Linked DNA regions of Homo sapiens. The protein of the gene in region 1 purifies or fractionates together with the protein of each later gene. This does not show direct contact. Each region holds a gene or a part of one and is shown in the gene's direction. Other genes may lie near its edges.

Evidence for each region.
Region 2: the proteins of SBK2 (region 1) and TMPRSS11E purify together in Homo sapiens (affinity purification with mass spectrometry; one large-scale study listed by BioGRID and IntAct). This does not show direct contact.

The regions. Positions count from the first base shown.
Region 1 is NC_000019.10:55,534,334-55,538,262, reverse strand, and holds the start of SBK2 (serine/threonine-protein kinase SBK2), read left to right. Parts: upstream 1-1,129; 5' UTR 1,130-1,209; intron 1,210-1,966; 5' UTR 1,967-1,968; coding exon 1,969-2,221; intron 2,222-3,929.
Region 2 is NC_000004.12:68,495,284-68,498,104, forward strand, and holds the end of TMPRSS11E (transmembrane protease serine 11E precursor), read left to right. Parts: intron 1-1,359; coding exon 1,360-1,521; 3' UTR 1,522-2,321; downstream 2,322-2,821.

The DNA.
Region 1 (3,929 bases):
CAGGAGTCCAGGTCCTCAACCCCCTCCTCCCTCAGGCCCAGGAGTCCAGGTCCTCAACCCCCTCCACCCTCAGGCCCAGGAGTCCGGGTCCTCAACCCCCTCCTCCCTCAGACCTAGGAGTCCAGGTCCTCAACCCCCTCCTCCATCAGGCCCAGGAGTCCGGGTCCCGTGTAGAAAATGAAATCATTTCTGGAACCCACCCCTGCCTTGACCCCACCCAGCTGCCCCATCAATGCCCCATTGACAGGTCAGACACAAGTGCTTGGAGAGGGGTGTCCAGGGGATCAGATGCTGGGGTCTAGTTTGGGGAAAGAATGAGACAATGAGATTCCAGAACGATGCAGTGTGGGATGACCTCAGACTCAGAGGGGCGGGAAGCAGGTGCTGGAGCAACTGGGAAGAGAGGCCTTGAGGGGGTGGGGAGGCCTCAGTTCTGCCGGAAAACTTCAGATGGGTGGGGGAGGCTGAGGCCTGGACTCCTGGGTCTGAGGGAGGAGGGACTGGGGCCTGGACTCCTGGGTCTGAGGGAGGAGGGGCTGGGGCCTGGACTCCTGGGTCTGAGGGAGGAGGGGCTGGGGGTCTGGACTCCTAGGTCTGAGGGAGGAGGGGCTGGAGACCTGAATTCCTGGGTCTGAGGGAGGAGGGGCTGGAGACCTAGACTCCTGGGTCTGAGGGAGGAGGGGCTGGGGTCTAGACTCCTGGGTCTGAGGGAGGAGGCACTGGGGGACTGGATTCCTGGGTCTGAGGGAGGGAAAGCTGGGGGCCTGGATTCCTGGGTCTGAGGGAAGAAGAGCTGGGGGCCTGGACTCCTGGGTCTGAGGGAGGAGGGGCTGGGGCCTGGACTCCTGGGTCTGAGGGAGGAGGCACTGGGAGACTGGATTCCTGGGTCTGAGGGAGGAGGCGCTGGGGGCCTGGACTCCTGAGTCTGAGGGAGGAGGAGGGGCTGGGGCCTGGACTCCTGGGTCTGAAGGAGGAGGGCTCAACTCTTGGGTCAGGGTATTCACCTGACCACAGCCAGTTCCAGGAGTCATCACACGATGTCGCTCTGCTCCCAGTGGGGGCAGAAGGGGCGGGCCCAGGGGCGGGGCCTTACGACCCCCAAAGTCGGGGCGGGGTCTTGCTCCTAGGCAGGCCTCTGCTGGCATGAGCCCTAAGTGCCGGGCACTGACCACAGCCGGCGGCCGGAGGGTCAGGAGGGCCTTGGAGGAGGTGAGGTCTGGAGGTCTGAGCCCAGGTTGGGAGGTGGGCAAGGTGCCCTGGCCTGAGGTGGGCAGCACCTGAGGGTGACTGTACCAGGTGGCCCGAGTCCTCGGTCCCTCAGGGGAGCCTGGGCTGCACCTGGAGGCTGTAGAGCGGTGGAGGGTGAGGGAAACAGAATCAGGGGGTCCCCAGTTGTGTGAATTGTATGAGGTTCCGGGAGAGAGGTGGGCTGGGGGCCTGGACCCCTGGGCCTGGCGGAGGAGGGGCTGGGGGGCTGGGTCGGAGGGAGGTGGGTGGGCTGTGAAAGTGGGACCCCAGGCCTGTCAGGAGCTTGGGGACTGATCCCAAGTGCTCGGTCCCATGCAGGACCCAGGCGTCCCAGGCCCTCTGCACAGCCCGCCCTCCCAGCCCTGAGCCCAAGAGCACCTGTTTGTTCTCAGGAGACAGAGTCTACTCATCCACCCCCAGGGCCCAAGTCTGTTTGCTTTGGAAACAAGATGGGGGAGTCTCAGTTATCTGGTTCATCTTTCAACCTCAGGGTGGGCGGGTGGCGGCGGCGGCACGCGGGCAGGGACATCTGTGACCTGGGGCTTGAACTCACACCAGACTTGTCTCCCCACCTCTCACCAAGAGGGAGACTGAGTCACAATGAGAAGCGCGATGAGCCCCCAGCCCCTCCTCCCTCAGACCCAGGAGTCCAGACCCCCAGTCCCCTCCTCCCTTGGGCCTGGGACCTGAGCCTGGGCACCCCTCTCTGTTCTCGCAGAGATGCCCGGCAAACAGTCTGAGGAAGGGCCGGCGGAGGCAGGGGCTTCGGAGGACAGCGAGGAGGAGGGTCTGGGCGGCCTGACATTAGAGGAGCTCCAGCAGGGCCAGGAGGCTGCCCGCGCGCTGGAGGACATGATGACGCTGAGTGCTCAGACCCTGGTCCGAGCCGAGGTGGACGAGCTCTACGAGGAAGTGCGTCCCCTGGGCCAGGGTTGCTATGGCCGCGTCCTTCTGGTCACCCATCGTCAGAAAGGTACGAGGCTGTGGGGCCAGAGGTGGCAGGGTTCAGCTGGGGGCGGGGCACGGGCCTGGGGTAGCCCAGGCTGGGGAGGCTGGCAGGCCTGAATCAAGTCTTACCTCTGCCCTCCAAAGCTGTGTGTTTTTTGTTTTTTGTTCTTTTGGTTGGTTGGTTGTTTTTGAGACAGTCTGGCTCTGCCGCCCAGGCTGGAGTGCAGTGGCACAATCTCACTGCAACTTCCACCTCCCAGGTTCAAGTGTTCCTCCTGCCTCAGCCTCCCATGTAGCTAGGACTATAGGCATGCACTACCACACCCAGCTACATTTGTGTGTGTGTGTATTTTTCTTTCTTAGTAGAGATGAGGTTTCACTCTGTTGGCCAGGGTGGTCTCGTACTCCTGGCCTCCAGTGATCCGCCTGCCTCAGCCTCCCAATTGCTGGGATTACAGGCATGAGCCACGGTGCCCTGCCAAAAACTGTGTTTTGAGGAACTCCCTTGCCCTCTCTGAGTCTCAGCTTCCTCCTTTGGAAAATGTGGGTGATGATTTCTACTTGGAAGAATGGTGGATCCTCTGAGTGAATGTGGACTGCTCTAGTTGCTGGGGTTGTATAATGCTGGGTAAGACAGAGCTCCCAGCTCAGGAGCCTCCTGTGGCGGCTGTAGTGGTCACCGTGGGATGATGCAGAGTGATGCTGTCTGCTAAGCACTTAGCAAGGCCGGCACACAGTGGGTGCGCAGGACAGCTCCCCACTACCCTGGGCCTTTCTGCCAAGCACCGTGTCCTTCCATGAAACGGAAAATAGGGAGGCAACCTGAGGTCAGTCAGTTCAGGGCACGCCTTCTGAGGCCAGCCCTGTGCTGGGGGGGTTGGGCGGGCAGTGGACCCAGAATTGAACCAGAGCCAGTCCCTGCCTTCAAAAATCTCCTAGCATGAATGCAGAAAAAGTGTGCATTCATCTGCTGGGGCTGCCATAACAAAGGCAGGCGCTTCCACAACAGAACTTTTGACTTTTTTCTTTCTTTTTTTTTTTTGAAATGGAGTCTCGCTCTGTTGCCCAGGCTGGAGTGCAGTAGCACAATCTCAGCTCACTGCAACCTCCGCTTTCCAAGTTCAAGTGATTCTTGTGCCTCAGCCCCCCGAGTAGCTGGGATTACAGGTGCATGCCACCATGCCCAGCTCATTTTTGTATTTTTAGTAGAGATGGGGTTTCACCATGTTAGCCAGGCTAGTCTTGAACTCCTTATTTCAAGTGATCCTCCTGCCTCAGCCTCCCAAAATGCTGGGATTACAGGTGTGAGCCACTGTGCCTGGCCTTTTTTCTTTTCTTTTTTTTTCTTTTTTTTTTTTTTTTGAGACAGGGTCTCGCTGTTGTCCAGGCTGGAGTGCAGTGGCACAATCATAGCTCACTGCAGCTTTGACCTCCTGGGCTCAAGGGATCCTCCCACCTCAGCTCTGCAAGTAGCTGAGACTACAGGCGCATGCCACCATGCCCGGCTAATTTTTAAATGTTTTTTTTAAGATGGGGTCTCACTGTGTTGCCCAGGCTGGTCTCAAACTGGCCTCAAGTGGTCCTCCTGCCTCAGCCTCCCAAAGTGCTGGGATTACAGGTGTGCGCCACCGTGCCTGGCCAACAACAGAGCTCTGTTTCCTCACAGCTTTGGAGGCTGGAAGCCCGAGATCAAGATGTCAGCAGGGTTGGTTCTCCTGAGGCCTCTCTCCTTG
Region 2 (2,821 bases), on another chromosome or scaffold:
CTATCTCTTTAAAATAATTATTTATTCTCGGACTCATTTATTCCTGTCTCTTATGCTGATTAAAGCTTTGTTTTCTCTTGTATCTTCTATTTCTCTATCCTGATTTTCTCTGCCTGCATATAGACTTGGGATTTTATTATCAAAATTATTTATTTTTGAATAGCTTCATATGGCATATCTTATTTCTATAAGCAGATTGCAGGTTTCTAGAGGACAAGATCCATGTGTTTATAATACTCTTTTTATATCTCCTCCTACATACGAGGGTATCAGTAAATGCTTATTGGTTAGTTGATTTAAAATCACAAATGTATTATTTCAAATTTACTATTATATTAGTTAATTTTTTAAATGGACAAAAGAAAATTCACAAGGAAGTTAGCATAACGTAGGGAAAAAAGCATGGGCTTCTGAATTAGATCGCTCTGGATTCAAATTCGGGGTCTGCCACTGATTAGCACGTGATCTCAGGCAAATTACTTAATGTTTCTGAGTTTCAGTTTTCTTAGTAACCCAGAAAAAATTAACCTAGTTCTATGTTTTTTGTAAACAAGAATTACATGAATTAATGAGATAATATTTTAATCAATTAAGAACTTCATAGAGTGAGTATGAATACTTAATGGGTGGTCAATAATTAGAAGCGCCAGGATCTTGAGGAATAATCAGCCAGTACCTCATTATTACAAGCCATATAAAGAATCAAAACTCTGGAGTTTGCAGGATATAAATAATGAGAATTTGTGATTTTATATATGCATTTCCTAAGTTCTGCCTTTTGCTAGACTAAGCACTTTACATTCACTGTCTTACATCATCTTCATAGCACTCATCACAGGTAGGTATTATTAGGAGCATTTACAGATAAATAAATTAAAGGTCTTAGCCAGCATGGAAAGGCCAAACTTGAGATAGAAACCCTGGTGTCTGACTCTAATGTCTGTTTTTTTTTGTTTGTTTGTTTTTTTAAAATCAGTAATAGACTCTTCACTCCCTTTTTTGGGGGGTTATGTTACACTAATAAAGAGTATAGACAAAATAATTAGGGAGTTATTTTGTCAGATGTGTCACATAAGTTAAGAGTACAGTTCTTCAAAGAGATGGAGGCTTCAATCTCATTGTTTTGAAGGTTTCAAGGTATTTCAAGGTTTCAAGGTTTCAATCTCATCAGTTTTCAAGGTATTGGAGGTCCTCTTTTAGGTGGATAACTGACATAGATGGAGAAAATCACTTATGCATGCGAACACACGGAATACTTTTGAAAATTACCCCTTTCATTACATTCTTAAGTTAGAAAAATAGCCAATTCCTCTGTAATGAACTGAATTATGAATTACTAATTTCTGTCTTCTCCTTTAGGGTGACTCTGGAGGACCACTGGTTAGTTCAGATGCTAGAGATATCTGGTACCTTGCTGGAATAGTGAGCTGGGGAGATGAATGTGCGAAACCCAACAAGCCTGGTGTTTATACTAGAGTTACGGCCTTGCGGGACTGGATTACTTCAAAAACTGGTATCTAAGAGAGAAAAGCCTCATGGAACAGATAACATTTTTTTTTGTTTTTTGGGTGTGGAGGCCATTTTTAGAGATACAGAATTGGAGAAGACTTGCAAAACAGCTAGATTTGACTGATCTCAATAAACTGTTTGCTTGATGCATGTATTTTCTTCCCAGCTCTGTTCCGCACATAAGCATCCTGCTTCTGCCAGATCAACTCTGTCATCTGTGAGCAATAGTTGAAACTTTATGTACATAGAGAAATAGATAATACAATATTACATTACAGCCTGTATTCATTTGTTCTCTAGAAGTTTTGTCAGAATTTTGACTTGTTGACATAAATTTGTAATGCATATATACAATTTGAAGCACTCCTTTTCTTCAGTTCCTCAGCTCCTCTCATTTCAGCAAATATCCATTTTCAAGGTGCAGAACAAGGAGTGAAAGAAAATATAAGAAGAAAAAAATCCCCTACATTTTATTGGCACAGAAAAGTATTAGGTGTTTTTCTTAGTGGAATATTAGAAATGATCATATTCATTATGAAAGGTCAAGCAAAGACAGCAGAATACCAATCACTTCATCATTTAGGAAGTATGGGAACTAAGTTAAGGAAATCCAGAAAGAAGCCAAGATATATCCTTATTTTCATTTCCAAACAACTACTATGATAAATGTGAAGAAGATTCTGTTTTTTTGTGACCTATAATAATTATACAAACTTCATGCAATGTACTTGTTCTAAGCAAATTAAAGCAAATATTTATTTAACATTGTTACTGAGGATGTCAACATATAACAATAAAATATAAATCACCCATTTGCTTGACATTATGATATGATAATCCACAAAGAAGGGGAAGATGGGAAAAATGTTACTAGTCAATTTATTGTAAATTTTTTTAAAATTTGAGGCTAGGATGAAAATTAATTTAATAACAATCAGCATGCTTATGTACTAAAATAATTGTGTTGTGGAATGGGAGGGAACGAAGAGTTCAAACAATTGACTGGAAAGGTTTTATTCATCTAAGACTTTCCCAAACAGCAAATCCTTGAAGGGAATGAGATCCAGGTGTTAGTGTACAGTCTAGTCATGCAACTGAACTGGGGCTCAGACCTCTATTTTGAGATGATTGTAGATATTTTTCTTCCCCTGCTGCTGTGTTTACAGTTCATACATGGTTAATGGTCCTGTTAGACTCCTCTTCGCTGAGATGGAAAGATACCATAGAGAAAATATCCTGGAAGCTGCCTCACTGCTGCATCTAGTGTGACACTGAATGGCTAACTGCCTGGATAACAAAACTGAAGAGTAAA